Regions from separate parts of the Homo sapiens genome. Here region 2 is linked to region 1. Evidence: fine-mapped expression QTL. A gene starts in region 1. The other region holds a variant in brackets. All regions are shown on one strand. Distances are from middle to middle. Region 1 holds the start of PLA1A (phospholipase A1 member A). Region 2 overlaps PLA1A (phospholipase A1 member A).

What was found. PIP is the estimated chance that this variant, and not a neighbour inherited with it, causes the effect.
Region 2: its variant is fine-mapped to the expression of PLA1A in skeletal muscle (GTEx, PIP above 0.99). The same link has a PIP of 0.9 or more in nasal epithelium.

Annotation. Positions count from the first base shown.
Region 1 is chr3:119,592,053-119,602,330 of GRCh38, reverse strand. It overlaps PLA1A (phospholipase A1 member A), which reads right to left and starts at 4,446. Exons shown (of 11, transcript NM_015900.4): 1 at 4,345-4,446. The coding sequence starts at 4,417. RefSeq lists enhancers at 930-1,429, 1,610-1,749, 3,578-3,767.
Region 2 is chr3:119,615,089-119,625,366 of GRCh38, reverse strand. PLA1A (phospholipase A1 member A) reads right to left here. Exons shown (of 11, transcript NM_015900.4): 6 at 9,266-9,355; 7 at 7,181-7,348; 8 at 5,715-5,804; 9 at 135-243. Among named protein-coding and RNA genes, the nearest start is that of PLA1A, 22 kb to the right of the region's middle. RefSeq lists an enhancer at 1,043-1,242. The variant G/A (reference allele first, on the strand shown) is at 5,949.

The DNA.
Region 1 (10,278 bases):
ACTATAGCATAAAGGAATTGAAACACTAGTTTCAAAACTATCCCTCAGAAAAGTCTAAGAGGCCTGAGAGTTTCACAGAGGAATTCTATTGATCCCTAGCTTACACATGCTGTTCCAGGAATAGAAAATGGGAGACAGGATTCCAGTTCATTCTATGAGAATATCCGAAGTACCAAAAGTGCAAAGGACAGGGGAGAAGGAAAAACTAAAGGCTACTTTCATTTATAAACATAAACAGAAATCTAAGATAAAATATCAGCAAATCTAAATCCATCCAGGATAACAAGACCACAAAGTACATCATGGCCCAGCAAGGTTTGCTGGGCCAATTCTTTGCAAAGAATTAAAGGCTGTTTTAACATTAAAAAAAGTATTAATATAATTCACGTATGAACAAACTAAAGAAGAAAAACCATATGCTCATCTCAACGGATGAGCAGAAAAAAAGAACACTTGACAAAATTCAACCCTCTTTAACATAAGAAAGGATATCTCCTAAAAGCCTACAGTAAGGATTAGATTTACTGGGAAATATTAGAAGTATTCCATTTAGAACAGGGAACAGATAAGAAATGTCTGCTATCACTGCTTCTATTAAATATTGTGCTAGAGGACCTAGTCCTAACCACTGAAACAAGACAATGCAATGGGATAAAAGTTATAAAGTTTGAAAAGGGAGAGAAGAAAATTGCCAGTATTTGAAGCTGATAAATAGGGAAGCATATTCAGATACTGCCTCTACCTAGCCACCACTCCAACCAAAGAACAGTGACACATGAGTATCTGGCCAGGCTGACCAGAGATTTATAAACAATAGAAATGAGGGGTGCAGAATGAAATACTGGCTTGTCTGAGTCTGAAAATAGCCTATAGTTTTCTATTCTTGAGTCTTTGACACTGAAGAAGTGTTAGAGAAGGGTGAGTAAGGCCTGGTAACACCCATGTTTCCATAATGGAAAGTGACTCTCAGGCATATATGACAGAGCTCCCTTCACCCGCCTGGGCTGCTCATGGTTCCCATGGGTGGCCTCTGTGATCTGCAAATGCTGGAAATGTGCTACTCTGCACTCCCACCTGCACCTGTCTCAGGTGTGTTCTGTAGATCGGTATCCCCCATGGGCTTTTGTTTCGTAGAAGTGTTATTTTGCTAAAACAGTTTTGATTCTGTGGCCTGGACCAAGAAGGGAAGGGTGTTCTGGCAGTGACAGAGTTGGCACAAAACCACATCAGACACTTTGTTATCAAATGTGGAGATGACAGAGGAGCCATCGGTGCATGTGTCGGGAAGCAGGCACCCTCCTCCAGGCTCCTCGGGAAGACACTGCAGGAGGGGAGGAGGGCGGAGGCCCCCTCCCAATAGCTGACTTGAGGGTGGCTCTGCCACGCATGCAGGGTGCAGCACCACCTTCAGGCCCAGGCTGGCCTTACAGAGGCTGGTGTCACAGGCTGCTTCTGCCACCAGCTCAGCACTATGGGCCACTGAACTTCCTGCCACCCCCTTGAGCCCTGGGCTCCCCACAGACAGAGCTGTGCTATCAGATGACCTGTGGATTGAGGCATCAGCAGCCAGGAGTGTCTCTGAAATGGGCCACCCTCTGGAACCCTTCTTTGGCTGAATTGTTTCAGGATGAGTGTCATTTAATCAATCTGCCTAACGTCAGGAAGTAGAGATGAGGACTGCAGCCCGCTCAATTTCTTTCTTCTCAGTTACCAAGGCTTTTGGCTTATTGAATGTGTCCTGTGTGCCTGGGCCTGGGTGAGGCTCTGGGGATTCAAGGATGAAGAAGACGCCAGCCATAACTGCCCTTTGGGAGCTCAAAGTCTAGCGGAGAAAGGGAAAATAAGCAGGCCCCACAGCAAATAGGGATGTAAGATCTGTGACCAGGAAACATAGGTACTGAGAGAACACAAAGAAAGACCACCTACCCCAGATGGAGGAAGACTTGTGCATCCACCTGGAGGAGAGGACGCCTGAGCCAGCCTGGAAGCTCAAGGGCCAGGTTGATCAAGGAGCTCAACAATCTAAAGCTCCACAGTCCAAGGAAAAACTAGGTGTGACTGGGGTTGTCATGAAAGATTGTGTGGGTACACAGCCAGGAAAGTGAGTGGAGGCTGAACTTCCAAGAGGCCCATGTGGGTCAGCTACTGCCCTTGTGTGACAGCAGGCACCTGGATACCTCCTGAACCTCCTCCCTCCCGATCATTTGAGCTCTTCCTTTCCTTTACCTTGAGCTCTCTGCATCCGGCATCTTCTTTCTGTCCACCTACTTCATCTAGGCTGTCTGAAGTCAATTACATCCTTTTTCCTTTTCCCTTTGGCATATTTCTATCCCTCCCAGCCACACACACACACACACGCACACACACTTCTATCTCTGCCTATCCATCAACTCACTTAATTTCTGAGACAGCACTACTAAAAGTAAGAATAAGGAACATTAACTTAATAAATATTGTTGCTGTTGACAGTGAAACACTCAGTTAAGGTGGGAAAGGAAGAGAAGCGGATGGGAAATAGAGAATGCCTCACTGGGTAAGTGTGAAAAGAAAGACACCAGAGACAAACAAAGGCAAGAAGACCAGGCAAGGAAATACCCAGGCCCTGCTAACATGTTATTATAAGCCCACTTCCTGCCCAGAGCATCTAGAATGATTCCCACATATGTGGCTGGAACCTGATCAGCTTCTGCGCTGACCCTAACCCTGCTATCTGGTTCAGAATTTCTGAGCTTCTCTTATCTGTGTGACAGAGGCCCCAGGCTTACCGACAGATGAGCTTCCAAAAAGAGTTTGATGCCAATTTGCTATAGTCCTCCCACTCCTCAACCTTCAAATCAGGACAACTAGCAAATGCCTTCCAGCCCCTAAGGAGGCCTGGGGCTCCTGAGCAGGGACAAAGTGGGCCTGCCAAGCCCACTTCTCAGAACGGGACCCACAGCTCTCCTAGGTGATACCTCCCACCTTCTCTCCAAGGTGGCTCATGACAGCCCTGTTCCCTCCACTTCCATCAGCCTAGACAACAATTTGCTAATAATAAAATCACAAAGGAATAAGCAACTGCAAAAGTCAGGCCCTGTGCACAGATGATCCCATTCAGTCCTTACAGCATTCCTATCTGGTAAGGATCATCTCTAGCTACAGGTAAAGAAAGCCACTTCCTCAAGGTCACATAGCTACAAAGAAACAGAGCCAGGATTCCAGTCTGGGTTAGCCCGACCCAGACAGAGCCTATTCCCCATCAGCTCAGCCCATTGCCTCCTCTAAGCATCAATGTCTGCAATATTCACTGGACATCTGCTCTATACAGAGCACAGCACTAACTATGCTAAAAGAGACAGAAGCCTCAAATCCTCACCTTTTAGGGACAACTAATTGAGGTAGGAGAAAGCACATACAGAGCTCAACAGCACCTCTGAAAAACCACCCATGAGTGCAAGGAGAGCATGCAGTCACCCAGTGGAACTTTGTAGCAGGGAGGGGTGCTGAGCAGAAAAAGAATGAGTACAAGGGAGATAGGAATACAGAAGCCCCCTTGAAAGATGCAAAGAACAGAAATCAATCCAAAGGTGATGTGAGCAACCCCAGGCAGAAGCAATGACATATTCTAGAGCCAGGGAATGAGAATTAAATGTCCAGCGGAGAAGACAGAAAAGCAGCCTGCTATTGTGAGTAGAGGGAGGGGATTTTTCTAAGGGTGACCTCACCATAGTGAGAAGGAGTCTTCTGAGAACTTCTGAGAACCCAAAGTAGAGCAGGTTAATTTTCTGTTAGGCAAGAGGGATCAGTGGGTCAGTTCTTTACTGGGGGAAAGGTAAATGCAAATTGGCATCTGAGGGAAGTTTTCCCAGGGGCATCTGAGGTTAGCAGGGACTAGTTCCCATCACCCAGCCAGGATGACAAACCACTTGAGTTAGGTTGCTGGATTAGAAAGGACATCTAACAATCTCAGTGACAAAATCATTATTAGTTTGGAAAACCTAAATTTTAAAATTAAATATATCTTGGAATGGTGGATATTTATGGGGTGAAAAATGAATATCTTAGAATTAACCAAATTTTATTTTCTTACAGTTGGTCCTGGCTTGTGCAAGGTGAGAAAGGGTTTTTTTATGTGGGCTTTAGAAAAATGAGTCGGATAACCAGGGAAAGTTCAGGTTTTGTGACCTGTTTACCATCATTCCGATTATGATAAAAGGGGTTTTTTTCCCCTACTGTTTTAAATTCACCTCAGAAGAGGCAAAAGGCTTTTAGGGGATCTTCCAAAAGTTAGTACTGCATAAGTAGTTGGAGAAATATGATCACTGACTGAAATAAGTTCCTCCCAAGGCCTGAGCCCTGGCTTACCTGAACTTCCAACGCTGAGCCACAAAATGAGGCCCCCCACCCAGAAGCAGCTCTCCCAGGGACCTGGGGGCATCGCTGAGCTGGAAATCTCAGAGCTGGTATGGAGTAATTCCCTAAAGCCAAAGAGATCATATAACCCAGCCTCTCAGAAAACACCCACGTGGATTTCACTAATCATTAACTAGCCTCATGACCTGAAAAGGAAAAATAAATTCTTCTTTATTTATTTAAATGCCAGAGTTTTCGGTTTCTTCTTCTCAATGAAAATAAATACACTTTCTTTTTTGTTAACCAGAGTGCATTGAAACACACTGTCCCTCTTTGAGCCAAACATGATCAGGAAACTATTTCCTGCACCTCTCCCACTTCCCGTGATAGGATGTTAGTAATAACCAAGGCAGAAGTCCTGCATCTCTGGGTGGCCAGAAACCCCTCATTGTGTTGGAATTATCTGTGGACATGTGTGTCTCCCTAGAAGATTCTGAGTGACTTGAGAGCAAAGGCTTTCTCTTTTCATTTTTGAATACCCAGTGCCTAGCACAAGACTGAGATAATACTATATATTAAGTGTCCATTTAAAGGGAAGAAGGGAAGAAAAAGTTTCCTCTGGAGAGTACTATCATTTTGTAGAATCTTGGGGCTAGGAGTCAAGTCCAACTTTGGAGATGTTCAACTTCCTGAATTCACAAAGAAACTGCATATTAGAAAAAGAAAATGACCTGTAGAGATCCCGTTGGTGGAAGTGGCAGAGCCGGGCCTGGAACCAAGATGGTTCCAGCACCATATGGCCTCTCCACCCCAAAGAGTGGCAGAAACCACAAAGAGCTATTTCTAGGCAAGTCAATGGGGCAGAGGCAGAGGGCAGGGCACTTGCCCCCCACTCCCTAAATCATAACACATTGCTGTGAGGTAGACAGCCCACTGGCAGGGCCAGGATCATCTTTTCCAAACAATAACTCTCTGAGGTGAGTATTATCACAGAGAAGTTAAGTAATTTGTACAACAAATTACTTATTTGTATTATAATTGTATACAAATTACTTAACTGTGACAATTACACAGTTAGTAAGCACAGATAAGTACAAATTACTTCTCTGTGATAGAAGTAATTTGTATTAAATACAAACATTTGTGTTTTACACAGCTGGTAGGGCACAGAGAATTTAAGTCATTTGCCTGAGGTCATGCAGAGCTGGGATTTAAAGCGGGATGAGCCAGCCCCAGAATCCATGCTCTGAGCAACGATACTCTACAGCAACAACTCCTGAAGAGGCTCTGGGACCATGTCATCATGGCTGAACGCAGGATACAATTATTTTGGAGGGGCTAGCCCTTACATCCCCTTGTGCACATGATCTCACTGCTCAAGTGCTGCTGCAACCAGGAAGGGGTGTGGCAATAAGTAGTGCACAGCAGAGGTCACTACTGAAAGCTGTCTTGATATTAGAGACCAAGCCAAGTGTATGAGTTCAGGTCCTCGGAGAAGAAGATGCCAAGGTAAGACAAGATATGCAAGAGATTTATCGAGCTAACACCTGTAAAGAATAAGAGGTACTAGAGAAGCCAGGAAGCGCCTTTAGATGGTGGTGAACATCTGATACCTGTGAAAGAGAATGGGCAGGAAAGAGAGGATTACATAGGAAGAGTCTCAGGCTGCAGCACAGTTTCTAGAATATTCTGACCAGGCCAATGGGGACTCCTCAGGCCAAAGTCTTTTGTGACAGCAGATGTGTTTTGTAGAAATGAGCCTGCATTAGCAGCCACATCTTGCTTAGTCATTAGCTGAGGTCAGCCTCAGCACAAAGACAGAGGTAGATTCAGAAGACAGCAGCTGGAGCCATCAGTCAATCATTTTCCCTACAGCAGGAGAACTGAGGGCTGTTTTCCTAGCCACCCACACCGTGGCCAGAGATAGTTAATCCAGGGTGCCCTTGTGCATGGCATGAATACAGCTGACATTGAGAGAGCACTTTCACTTTCTTTCACATCCAACATCTAGCACAGAGCTCTCCAAGCGGGGTCAGAGTGGTCCCTTCCAGAACCCCCTGCCTCACAACCATCCAATTGACTTGGGACAGATTGCTGGATCCACCCCAGACACACAGAATGAGAATCTTTGGAACTGGGCCCAGGACTCTGCAGTTCCAGCAGGCTCCTCGGGTGATCGTACGCATGCTAGAACCACTAGTCTTCTGTTAATACTTACAATAGCCATGTCCATTTCACCAGTGGAGAAACTGAAGCTCAGATAGGCCAGGGGCTAGGGACACTGCTTGAGAGGGCCAAGGCGAAACAAGATATGCAAGAGTTTTATTGGACTAAACCTCGTCCTTCTGAAAAGTGAGATTACATATTTTAGAAGGTGAGGATGAGACCCTCCTACCTGGAGACACTGAGAGAGCCACAATTCATATTCAGTGTATGCTGTCCATCTCCCCCAAGGAGAATGTCAGCCTCAGAAGGGCAGAGTCCTGGCCTGTTTTGCTCACTGAGATATCCCAGTATGTAACACAGTACTTGCTACACAGCCAGTGGTCAATAAGTATTTGCCAGGGGAAGGCATTGTTCAACTGGTAGGGTGTGCTGGTTAGTTCCCACCCCTCTTTTAGAAAGGGGGTCCTACTCACCCATTGTAAGGTGGAGACAGATGGTTTTATTTGCCTAGGATCTGGGTACACAATGAGCAAGGGACCAGGGCATCAATGTTCAAAATTCTGAAATGCAGTGGTGTAATAATGGCTCACCACAGCCTCACTTCTTGAGCTCAAGCAATCCTCCTGCCTCAACCTCCTGAGTAGCTGAGACTATAGGTGCACACTACCACACCCAGCTAATTTTATTTATTTATTTATTTATTTATTTATTTATTTATTTATTTATTTATTTTTGAGACAGGGTCTTGCTCTATCAACCAGGCTGGAGTGTAGTGGTGTAATCTTGGCTCACTGCAGCCTCGACCTCCTGGCCTCAAGTGATCCTCCCACCTCAGTCTCTCAAATAGCTTGGAGTACAGGCACCTGCCACCATGCCTGGCTAATTTTTTAAAATTATTTTGTAGAGATAGAGGTCTCGCTGTATTGCCCACGCTGATCTCAAACTTCTGGTCTCAAGCAATCTTCCCATCTCAACCTCAAAGCATTGAGATTAGAGGTGTGAGCCACCATATCTGGCCTAACATGTATTTTGTAATAGGTCTACACATATATGCTTTTTTAAAAAATACAAAAACATGGTTAAAAATAAATCTCCATCCCTTTCCCCCAAGTTTCCCAATCCTATAGAAATCAGGCATTGTCATGGTTTTCTTGCTTATCCTCCTAAAGATATTCTATCTCATGCTTTTTAGATTTTTACACCCTTCTTTTGACCTACTACTTTTTTTTTTTTTTTTTTTTTTGACAGTGTCTTGCTCTGTCACCCAGGCTGAAGTGCAGCAGTGCAATCATGGCTCACTGCAGTCTTGGCCTCCTGGGCTCAAGTGATTCTCCCACCTTGGCCTCCCAAGTGGCTGGTACAGGCACACACCACCATGGCCATCTAATTTTTCTTTCTTTCTTTCTCTCTTTCTTTCTTTTCTTTTTTTTTTTTTTAAGAGACAGGGTTTCGCCATGTTGCCCAGGCTGGTCTTGAACTCCTGGGCTGAAGTCATCTTCCCACTTTTGCCTCCCAAAGTGCTCAGATTCTACGTGTGAGCCACCACGCCCAGGCTTACGCAAACTCTTTTGAACCTTGAGTTTCACATTAAACAAAATACTTTGGAGCTGCCTCATTCTTCTTTTAAGGTTGCATAGAATTCCATCAGATAGAATGTGTCATGAAATTTTAGTGCTCAACCCAAAATGGCTTGAAGCCCTTATCCTACCTGATTTTCAGAAAGTCCAATCTTGCCAGATTCCAATTTGAGGTGAAGAGCACGATTATGGAGTCTCTCCACTCCTGCTGTCCTGTATGTCCTGCATGTGAACATGGGTACATGCACGTGCGTGCACGCACACACACTTACCTTCTCAGAACAAGTCATAAAATATAAGTGTAGTGCAAGACAGTTTTCAAGGTCTTGGACTGGGCCCGGTTCTTTCAGCTTTCTGGCTTATAGTTCTCAAGAATAACTGTAGAATGTGCTGGGAATCCAACATCCTGGAATCTGTTCCAGTCCCCCGACTACCCCACACCCCCAAACACGATATCCTTCAATGCTTTAGCTCAGTGATTCTTGTTTCCTTTGAATATAAAACCCAGGGTGGGCTGCCTTCCTGGGGGTCCTCAGTTGTGGTACAAGTGGGCATGTGCAGATGAGGATCCGTGTGCCACAGGCAGCTTTCCTAAGCCTTGGGTACTGGCTCACATGAATTTCAGGCTTCTGTTGTCTGCTGCCTAGCTGTAAGTAATAAGCCAGATTCCTGTAACTCATTGCATGCATAGGTGTTCTGTCTCCCAAGACTCAGACAAATCACAGTGAACCTGCTTTTCACACAGTACGGTCTAAAACCTTATGGAGAAAGAACATTTCATGCCTCTAATATGCCAAACCACATTATTTTAACTTTCATTTAAAAACATCTATATTCTGTCTCTGTTTTTCCAGAAAGAATAAGTAGAGACCAGCTTTATATTAGCCCAGACAAAAAGGTCACTTGTGGTTTTGCCAGAACAGAGATGCTGTGTACCCCGCAGGAGATGCCAAGCCTGCAAGTGTTGAGAAGGCTAAAAATTATTTGTAGCTTTAAAATGACAGTTTGATACTAAAATTCAATGGTTTAGTGTTTATTCCCTGAGATCACCTAACTTCAAAGTAAAATTGTGAACCTTAAGGGTTTATCTTTGGGTGTGCATTATGGCAAGGGAGTATTGTGAGAAGGTTGAAGAGAAAGAAAACCCTGTGAGCACCCGGGGTTGTGTCAAAAGTTTCCCAAATGACATAAGAAACTGGCTGGAGGTGGTTGTCTGGGAATATCCCTGGGTCTCTCATTTCATGACAGCTTGGTAAAAAGAAGACACTAGATACACTTTCTAAAAGCTATCAATAATATATAGATAGTATATGTTAACACATCTTTTTCCATTTTTTGTTTAACTGCTTATTATATGCTAGATACTATGCTGTGTAAAAAGTACAACAATCCCACAAGGTAGATACTATTATTAACCCCATTTTCCACGTTCAGAAACAGGCAGCGCAAGGTTTAATAACTTGCCCAAGGCTACACAAAGTGGCAGAGCATGGATTTGAATTTGAAAAACTACCACCAGCAATAGGTCCTTATGCATTCCACTGAATTTATGCTACCCACTCTCATTCTCACCATTCTCCTCAAGGTGGGCATTATTAGCCTCAACTTACATTAGTCCTGAGCAACCTGAGGCTTGGAGGCATCTGGTGGCAGAGCCGGGTTTCAATGGCAGCTCTCTGGAAAAGATCACAGAGCATGCCTTTTCTTAGTCCTAATTACATAGCAATTACCATGTGCCTGCAACAAGGAAAAAATTCACACCTTCAGAGCACCCCCCTCCTAGGTCTCCTGGATTCAGGGCTGGTGGAATAAGGGACAGTAGAGAGTCCACCTCACCTCAGAATGTCACCTTCACTAGAGCAGTCTCCAATAGAAAGTGTATTTTAGAAGGAAGATATAGTAAGAAGACACAGCCGGCCCCTGAAGTGGGCCAACAGATGGACTGTGTCACTTCCATCTGCTGGCATTGACAATGGGGAGGAGGGTTGTCCATATACCAGCCAAAATGATGAGAAACACTGCTTTGAAGCATGGCTGTCTATTAGTAAATGTTTCTATCCACAGCTCTGTAGATTGGGAGACCAAAGGATTCTTTCTTTGCTCTTATCTCCAAGTCAGACAACCCCATTTTAGACTCATGTTCTTTGGGCATTAGTATTGAAAATTCAGGGGCTCCAAGCTCAAATACCCTGAGAGGAGTCAC
Region 2 (10,278 bases), 23 kb before region 1:
CTGCCCCCAGCCAAGCCGGCTGGGCCCATGCATCAGCAATCACACAGTCCCTGACCTGGGATGTCCATGTGTGTAAAATGAAAAAGTAACCAACTCCTAAGGGGAGGAGTCAACCAGGTGGGACACTTACGTACATGGTGATCTTAGATGAAGAGGTGATGTTACTGCTAAGGAAGGTAACCTCGATGTTGGTGTCCTTGTTTCTCAGTTCCTTCAAGTGAAACTCCACGAGGCTGTGATGCACTAGGAAACCAAAGCACAACAGAGACTGGCCAGAGGGCAGAAGGTGCAATGGGCAAAAACCCCAGAGAGCAGCAGTGTGGTTGGGAATCTTGGCTCTATCTCTTAGTGGCTGTGTGCCCAGGAGCAGATCACCTATAATCTCAGGTCCTCAGTTTCCTCAAGTGCAAATTGAGGATAATAAAAATAGACACTTGGCTGGGCGCAGTGGTTCACGCCTGTAATCCCAGCACTTTGGGAGGCCGAGGCGAGTGGATCACCTGAGGTCAGGAGTTTGAGACCAGTCTGACCAACATGGTGAAACCCCATCTCTACTAAAAATATAAAAATTAGCCAGGTGTGGTGGCGGGTGCCTGTAATCCCAGCTACTCAGGAGGCTGAGACAGGAGAATCGCTTGAACTCAGGAGGCAGAGTTTGCAGTGAGCAGAAATTGCACCACTGCACTCCAGCCTGGGCGGCAGAGCAAGACTCCGTCTAAAAAAAAAAAAAAATAGATACCCTAGGTCTGAAATAAGTGGGTTAATATGTATGAACTTCTCAGGACAGTGCCTGTGCCTAGGAAGCATTCAGTAATGTTAGTTTTTGTTATTTTGTAATACTAATGTTTTACTTCCCCTTGTTTGCTGACATATTCATGGTGGGATGATCTTGAATGAGCCAAAATGCATCTATCATATACGGCTATCTTTTGTTTGTGTCCCCTCCGAGTTCATGTTTAAACTGAATGCTCTGTGCAACAGTACTGAGAGGTGGGGCCTTTGAGGGAAGGGATTAAGTCATGAAGGCTCTACTATCATGAATGAAATAGTGCCTTATAGAAGGGCTCAAGGGAATTGGCAGGGCCCTTATTTGACCTCCTGCGTTCTGCTGTGTGTGAACACGGTATCTGTCCCCTCTGGAGAATGCAACAGCAAAGCACCTTCTTGGGAGCAGAAAGTGCAACCCTTATAGACATGGAGTGCCGGCGCCTTGATCTGGGACTTCCCAGCCTCTAGAGCTGTGGGAAAATAAATTTCTGAGCTTTGTAAGTTACCCAGTCTCAGGTACTGTGTCATAGTAGCACAAGTAGACTAAGACATAAACTAAAGGTTTAACTCATAAGGTCAGGCGTGGTGGCTCACTCCTGTAATCGCAGCACTTTGGGAGGCCAAGGCGGGTGGATCACCTGAGGTCAGGAGTTTGAGACCAGCCTAGCCAATATGGTGAAACCCTGTCTCTACTAAAAATATAAAAATTAGCCAGGCATGGTGGCAGGCACCTGTAACCCCAGCTACTAAGGAGGCTGAGGCAGGAGAAGCATTTGAACCCGGGAGGCAGAGGTTGCAGTGAGCCGAGATGGTGCCGTTGCATTACAGCCTGGGTGACAAGAGTGAAACTCTGTCTCAAAAAAAAAAAAAAAAAAAAAAAAGAAAGAGAGAATTAACTCATTAAATACAGCAACGGCCCTGCTCCCTCTCCACACACCCAGCGTCAGGGAAGCAGGCTGTGTGTGTAGGAGACTGCTCCTCTCCCTGCAGCCGCTGGTTACCTATGTGGCATCCAGACTCTCCCTTGAGCAGCATGGACACTGGAGCTCTCAAAGTGAGTGTCGCCAACATAGACTGGGTGTACAGCCTGGGCCATGGTGATACCCCTGGGACCTGCTGTCCCTCTGGCAAGAGAAGGTAAGAAAGATTACAGGCCAGGCATAGTGGCTCATGCCTGAAATCCTAGTACTTTGGGAGGCCAAGGTGGGCAGATCACTTGAGCCCAGGAGTTCAAGACCAGCCTGGGCCACATGGCAAGACCCAGTCTCTACAAAAAAACAAAAACAAAAAATTAGTTGGGCATGTGGTGTGTACCTGTAGTCCCAGCTATTTGGGAGGCTGAGGTGGGAGGATCACCTGAGCATGGGAGGTTGTAGCTGCAGTGAACCGTGACTGTGCCACCACACTCCAGCCTGGGTGACAGTGGGAGACCCTGTCTCAAAAAAAATCAAAATTAAAAATTTTAAGAAAAGCCAGGCGCAGTGGCTCATGCCTGTAATCCCAGCACTTTGGGAGGCTAAGGCAGGCAGATCATCTGAGGTCAGGAGTTCGAGACCAGCCTGGCCAACATGGTGAAACACCGTCTCTACTAAAAATACAAAAAAATTAGCAGGGTGTGGTGGTGGATGCCTGTAGTCCCAGCTACTCGGGAGGCTGAGGCAGAAGAATTGCTTGAACCCAAGAGGCGGAGGTTGCAGTGAGTCAAGATCGTGCCACTGCACTCCAGCCTAGGTGACAGAGCGAGACTCTGTCTCTAAATAAATAAATAAATAAGAAAAGAAAGATTACAGTTTCCCTAACACACTGTCCTTTTTTTTTTTACTAAGGGGTAGGTGCAACCTGGTGGCATTTTGCAATCACTTTAGTCTCGGAATTTTCCCAGGCTCCTTTGGTGATGGGAACATAGCTAGAGATGCAATCCTTCGCCTCTACTCTACCTGTACTTTCTCATTTGCCACATTTTATGGGCTAACATTGGGGAAGGGAACATAAACTGGATGCAGGTGAACTCAGCACTAAGTTGAAGGAGTGCTATGGCCCATCTGAGCTCCCTGGGGTTAGGAACAGGGCTCACCAAAAGGTGCCAAGATGCCAAGAACCCACAAGAAGAAAGGGGCCTTGAATGCTTCCCCTCCACAGAGGAGGACATCTTATACCACACCCTGTCTGTCTCTCCTTCTCAGATGTTACTATGGGATATCAATTGTTATGGGGACGGGCAAGGGCTGAACTGGAAAGGATGATATTTGCAATGTGGAAAAAATAGCTAACTTACAGAAGCTTTAGGAATTTAATTCTCAGGGCTGAGTTTGCTATATTATATTATTAATACTTCTTCCTTTGCTAGCAAGTATCATTGATTAAGAAAGTTTTCTAAGATTCTGTCTCCTTCTTCTTCTTCTTCTTCTTCTTCTTCTTCTTCTTCTTCTTCTTCTTCTTCTTCTTCTTCCTCCTCCTCCTCCTCTTCCTCTTCTTCTCCTTCTCCTTCTCCTTCTTCTTCTTCTTCTTCTTTCTTCAGAAACAGGTTCTTGCTCTCTTGCCCAGGCTGGAATGCACTGGCACAATCAGCTCACTGCAGTCTCGAACTCCTCTCCTCAAGCAACCCTCCCACCTCAGCCTCCCGAAGTGCTGGGATTAGAGACGTGAGCCACTGCACCTGGCCTACTTCTTTCTTCACTTACCCTGGAGGCCCCAAGGGAGCTAGGCCTAATGTTGGGTGGGTGGGAATTAGTGGAATCAAATCTGCACAGGAACATGTCTCATGTCGTACAACACAGAGTCCTGAGTGGTTGGTCAGGAGGCCTGGATCCAAGGCCCAACCCTGCTGCTTACAAGCCATGCTGCCTTGCCTAAGACACTGAGCCTCTCCATGCCTCAGTTCCCTCATCTGCAAGCCATAGCCCTCAACTTATCACACAGGACATGGTAAGGATGGAGTGAAGTAATGGAGAAAAGGTACACTATGTGAAAAACTGTTCTATGAGGGAATATATTGTTTAAAAATTATTATTTGGTAGAAGATCCTCTGCCCATGCTGGCGCATGCCTGGCACAGGTCAACATTGCTGAAGTCAAAGCAGACCAAGAGTGCTAGGCATGGGAGCCCAGTGCCATGATGGCCTGAGAGTGGCTGGAGAGCTGCTGGTCCCTACCCCCTCCCTACCCATATCTGTCCAGGGAGAGCAGGGAGGACTCCGCTTCCATCCCTAGAAGTGACAGCTCAAGGCAGAGCATGCCTGTTTATGTGCCCCTCTGTGGTTTTGGAACCAACAGGGCTACGCTTCTGAAGGTGTGGGGAGGTGGTCTCACAATAAATACAAAAGAGTCAGAAAAAACATGGCCCTGTGAACCCCCTCAGCAGGGACCTTAACATGCTGTTAGTCTCCAGGCATTCCCCACACTTTCCTGCTGGGTATATTCTTAGCTGCACAGACACAGAGGCACCAGCTCAGGTTGCTGTGAATCTGCCCAGCAGCTGGAATTAGAAGTCAGGACATCTGGTCCTGGCAACACCACCTCCACCACCAGACAAAACATCCTCCCGCATGCCAACTCAGATGGGGTGGCGCTGACAGAAGGGGAGCTGAGACGTACGGCCTGCGGACAGCAGGTTCTCAGAAGATGGAAGCATGGTGGTGGTGAGGAAGGAGTATAGAGTTTACAGTCAGGAGACCTGGAGTTGAGTTCTGACCTTTTCATCCAGCTGTGGAGACTTGGGCATGCCACTTGGTCTCTCAGAGCTTCCCTTTCCTTAAGTCTCCCAGTTGGGTTGTTGAAAGAGCTGATAAGGACATGAAAAGCCCACAGTTGACTCTGTAGTCCACTTTGCTCCTAAGAGGTAGCCAAAAATTTTCTCTGGCATGAAGATACAAACACCCTAACTATTCTTCTCCCAAATTCTCTGATTGACTAAGGGAAGGAAATTATTACTGATTGGGTTCCAGTCCCTGTGCTAGTGATCTCCTGTGCACCATTTTATTTTATACTCACAATTGGTTCTTTAAAGTAGGTACTGTTATGGTTCCCATTTTCACATAAGGATATAGAGTTCAGAGAGTTTAAATAACTTGTTCCTGATCACACAGCTGGTAAGTGGAGAAGCTGAGATTTGAATCCAGGTCCAGGTGAACACAGAGTCTGAGCTCTAGGCTCCATGTCATATGGCACCAGGCCTTCTGGTACCAGGAAGATATTTTCACAAAGATCCCTGCACTGACTTGACACAAGCTGATCAGAAAATCAGTTAAAATTGGGTGGCATGTTGTTTATCATCCAAGCCGGCATACTTTATCCTGTACACATGATAAAGCAAACAGGACCCCAGGATAACCAGCATAAACCAGGAAGTATAGTCACCCTAGTTAAGATGCACATAGCATAGGGAAGGATGACGGTTTAGCTTGTAATGTATTTCATGGATTCTGGACACATTTTTACTTCACATTTAACATCGTTACAATCACCAGCATCCTAGCTTCAAGGAAATGCCATGGTTAGGAGCAACAGTGAGAAGCTGGAATGCATCTGTGAAGGGGAAGGAGACCAGAGGGAAAGGTTCAGTATTCCCCAGGGACCCCAACCTTGGAGGCTGCCAGGGTGAGAACCACATAGGGTGGGCGCCAAGAAGTGGGAAATGAGAGTGCAGAAAGGAGGCAGCCGGAGGACACTCCTAAACATCACTCGAGAGAGAAGACCCACTAGAGGGTAAATTTTGAGGGTAAGAGGAAATACGATCAGTAGATAGACAGTAAGAAGCCCCCAAGTCCTCATCTGAAGAGCAATCGGTTGGACTCACTCTGAAAGTTTTGGTTCAGACCAGGGGCTGTTGCCACACCTCCGGTGATGCCTTTGCTCTTATCATTCACTCCCACCCAGGCTACCACACTGGGCTGGACTCCTCTGGTGGTGCCCTGGCAGAGCTGAGCTCATGCATTTCCCCCTACTCACTGCAGTACGGAGCACTGGAAGTAGTCAGGAGGTAGACTTTCACTTCCTTGGGGAGCGGCTCTATCTTGACACCACCTTGTTCCACCAGTCCTGGAAATAAAGAAGCAAAGACAGCAGAGTCCTGAGAAGGCTATCTTAGGGTCCCACAGCACCCAGCCACGTGTTTATTAATTCATGCACCCATTTATTCCACGGACATCTACACCATACACGCACTATGTGCTGTATTCTAAG[G/A]TGAGTCCTGGGATCCCAGCAACTCGGTCCAGTGGGCAGTAAACACACACATAAACGGAAATATGCTTTTCAGATCATCTGACTCATTCTTGGCAGGTTATTATAAGAAATCTGACACTAATCTGTCTCTAACTTGCAAAACCAATCTCCTATAGTAGTTGTTTTCATGACATTTATATCCCGTGCAGTGGGAGCATGGTGAAGCAGGAAGTGTTTGACCTGAAGACTAGTGGATGACAGGTGGAGAGAGGGCATTCTGGGAAGAGAGTATGGTTAGGACCAAGGCACACAGGTGAGGAAGCCCGATGTACACTTGGAAGTACAAGTAGTTAGCACCACCAGGTGTTCAGTGCAAGAGAAAGTGTAGTGAGAGATGAGGCTGGGCAGACAGTGTGAGGTGGCTGTTATGTCTGTGGGTCCATGGCATCTAGGGGAAACTGACATATGCACAATGAATAGGAAATAATGATGACTGGTTCTATCATTGGAAGCTACCCTACTTTACTATTTTGTCAAGCTGGTACCCATTTCACTCATATAAGCAGTGACAGGCTGCTGCAGTTGAGTGGCAGCCAGGGGTAGCGGGAAGTGAGAGAGTGCGGGAGGGAGAGAAACCATTTCCACTGCCCAGGAGTTTTTCCTGGAGCTCTTCATCCTGGATAACCACGGGATATGCATAGCAATGATCTACACAAGTGAGTTAGAGGCCAGATCCTGCAGCCTTCCTGGCATCCTTTCCCCAGACTGGCCTGGATCATCCAGGAAGGTGCCCAAGTCCTCCAGCAACTAGGCATCCCCCCAGCTCTCACGAGGCCACCAGAATATCCGACCTGTAATGTAGGTCTTGTGTTCCACTCTTAGGGATTCCCCACCATAGATTTAGGGTCTATGAAGGGTCATAGATTTAGGGTCTATGAAGAACTGGAGAATGGCCAGAAGTGAGAAAGACCTATAGGCAGCATCTGGTCTGAGAGTGGAGGAACCTGTATGTGGGAAGGGTGTGTGTGGGGCAAGGATGGCCATAGGGAACACTATAGAGAGTGAGGGGTGGGGCACGAGAACCAACCGTCCACCTCCAAGTAAGAACAGGCTGAGCACCTCATTGCTTAATTTTCTTTTCCCAAATTGGATAGAATTCTTGACCATAGGACATCAGGACATTAAGAGGGGACAACTAGCAGGGCTTGAACTTCCCCACATTGTCAAAGGAAGTCAAAGGGGTAGCACTTTACCTATCCTTGGGCAGGAAAGCAGAAAAGGGTTAAAGCAATCCAGACAGCGTCCAGCAAGGAAGGCCTTGTAGCTGGCACAGGGAAAGGCCATCAGTGGACAGGAATTCTCCAGGGCGCTGATGTAGAGGTGCACAGCCCTCATGTGATCACAGATCAGATAACTATAACCTGAACAGAGAAAAAACACAACCAAGGTTTCAGTCAAGACAAATGGAAATCTATGCTGTTTAGTGAAACTCTATTGAATTTTATATTCCAGCAAGCTGTAAATACATGCATGGGAGTCCCCTCAAATCACTTTTTCAGAATATTAGTGTACATGGTTACTACATTCTACTTTTTTCATTTTACTTTTCCTGAGATACATAAGCATAATCCATCAAGAAAATTGCTTGATTTGAGATGCATTCTTTTTTTTCTTTTCTTTTCTTTTCTTTTTTTTTTGAGACGGAATCTCACTCTGTCACCCAGGCTGGAGTGTAATGGCATGATCTTGGGCCACTGCAACCTCTGCCTCCTGGGTTTAAGCAATTTTCCTGCCTCAGTCTCCTGAGTAGCTGGGATTACAGGCGCACACCACCATGCCTCACAAATTTTTGTATTTTTCATAGAAACAGGGTTTTGCCATATTGGCCAGGCTGGTCTCAAACTCCTGACCTCAGGTGATCCACCTGCCTCAACCTCCGAGAGTGCTGAGATTACAGGTGTGAGCCACCGTACCTGGCCTTGAGATGGATTATATGATCATGCAAACTCTCCTTCATAAAATGGGAATATATAGAGAGTTGATGATGCTGCCCCATTTCTCAAAATGGGTATTTGTGCATATTTTTACCTCCATTATCATCAGCCATACAACCAATTTTTTACAACCTCATTATACCCTACCCAGCAGTGAGACTGCTGCATCAGCCGCCGTTTGTGGTCACTCTCTACACCCAATGTGCTGAGGCTCACCGGGCCAAATGACTGATATGCCGAATTTGTCAAATATCCCAGTTTACCAAAACTTATTTCACTGTTATTTACTATTTAAGTTTGCAGCATTCAACATTGGATAAATTGGCTGGAACTAAGAAGTATGTGGTGAGCTGTATACAACTCCAGGGTCCTGGGGTCTTTAAACTCTCCCTGCACCTTGAGACCTCGTTGCTGAGACCTGCAACCAAGGCCAAGCAATATTTTGACTTTCCTTTCCCCTGTGGTTGGGACACTCTGTATGGCCAAGCTCTCTCCAGTTGCAACAGGGAGCTGGGGCAGAGACAAACTAAACCCTTCTCAAGTTGTGTTATGAAGAAAAAATGAAAAGTGGTCAATTGAAATGCCACCAAATCTTCAAAAGCCATTGAAACCAAACTATCCTATTTTATCAGAATTGCTGAGAAATTCGCAAATTGCGAAAAGAAGCATGTTTTTGGAAAACTAGTAAATTTGGTAAAATAGATCAGTAGTTATTCAATAAGATTGTCAAAGGAATCCTTAAAATGTTAGAAATTTGGTAAAGCAAGAAAAGACTAAAAACATAGTAAACAGAAATCAGCATTTTAAATTTTTATATGAAATTCTGATATATTGGCTATATTCATAAGATATAAGAAAACCAAATAATTATTGACCTTAGATTTTGACAAATTTAGTCTGCTAAGAATATATCAATAAATATATTTTTAAAAATTCCAGAAGGCTGTATTTAAAGAGAGGAAATGTACAGTCATTGAATGTGTTCAAAAAGATCATCTTGAAAACAATTTTAGAGGACTGTTTGAGTTGGTAAATATGGTGAAATGGCTGGGCAGTGAATTGATCCTTCTGCTCACCAGCTTTGGGCACAATGGCTTGCCTCTGCCACAGCAAGGCTCTGTAGAGGATGCAGTTGGTGTGGACTGTGCCACACCCTCCCCTCAAATGCCTGGGCTCTGAAGACATCCATCCTTGAATACATTCTGAGTAAAGCGTTATGGGACATAGCAAAGGACACTGTCAAGTAGACCCTCTATGGCCCACTCTGGCTGACTCAACACAAAAGCTGTTGGTGAATTTCAATCTCCGGGGTTGCCAAATACCAGATTGTACTGGCTTTCTGACCTGCGTAAAAGAAGGTGGGGCAGCCAGGTTGGTCTTGGCCTCCGTTGACGAAGTAGTCCACATGTCCAACGGGAATCCGAATACCCAAATCTGAAAGGAGGCACAACTCCATTAACTTCCTTACTTCAGGGGGTCGGCTCACAGCGGACCTCAAACTCTGACCTTGGGAGCCCACCCACTCTCTGCCACGTCACTTCTAAGTGCTGTGAGACTTCACAGGATGAGCCCTCAGACAGATTTCTTTTCTTTTCTTTTCTTTTCTTTTTCTTTTTTTTTTCTGAGGCTTTCTTTTTTCGCTCTCTCGCTCTTGTCACCCAGGCTGGAGTGCAGTGGCGCCATCTTCTCTCACTGCAACCTCCGCCTCCCGGATTCAAGCGATTCTCCTGCCTCAGCAGGAGTAGCTGGGATTACAGGCGGATGCCACCACACCCGGCTAGTTTTTGTGTTTTTTTAGTAGAGACAGGGTTTCACCATGTTAGCCAGGCTGGTCTTGAACTCTTGACCTCAGGTGATCCACCCGCCTCAGCCTCCCAGTTTTCTAAAGGGATTTTTCATGCTAAAAGGAACCAAAGAGATTCTGTTGGTAAGATGCTCATATTTGCCTAAGAAAATCAAGAACAATATCCTGTAACACAAGTTTTTGTAACTCAGTAAATGTTATAAACTTGGTAAGTTTCCTCATTGAGTAGTTTTGGTTTTCCTTTGAGTAATAGTTCAGATAAATGTGTATGGGGTCACATTTCCACAGTCTCCCCAAAAACATATCTTTTGTGCTCTCCTGACTGAGTGGAAATAGAACATGGCTCCAGAGCGGAGATAAGAGAGCATCCTCTGCCCTCTTTCTGTCCCTGTGACCAATTCCTGGACCCTCTGCTGTGGCAGACTTGAGCCCTCAGACTGGCTCAGGCCCAGCTGCTGAAGACCCCGACTTTCTCCTTCTGTCATCTGTCAGTATTGGAAGAAATTGATTGTGTATTATTTGCTTACTGCCATCGACCTGGAGGTTAAGCAAT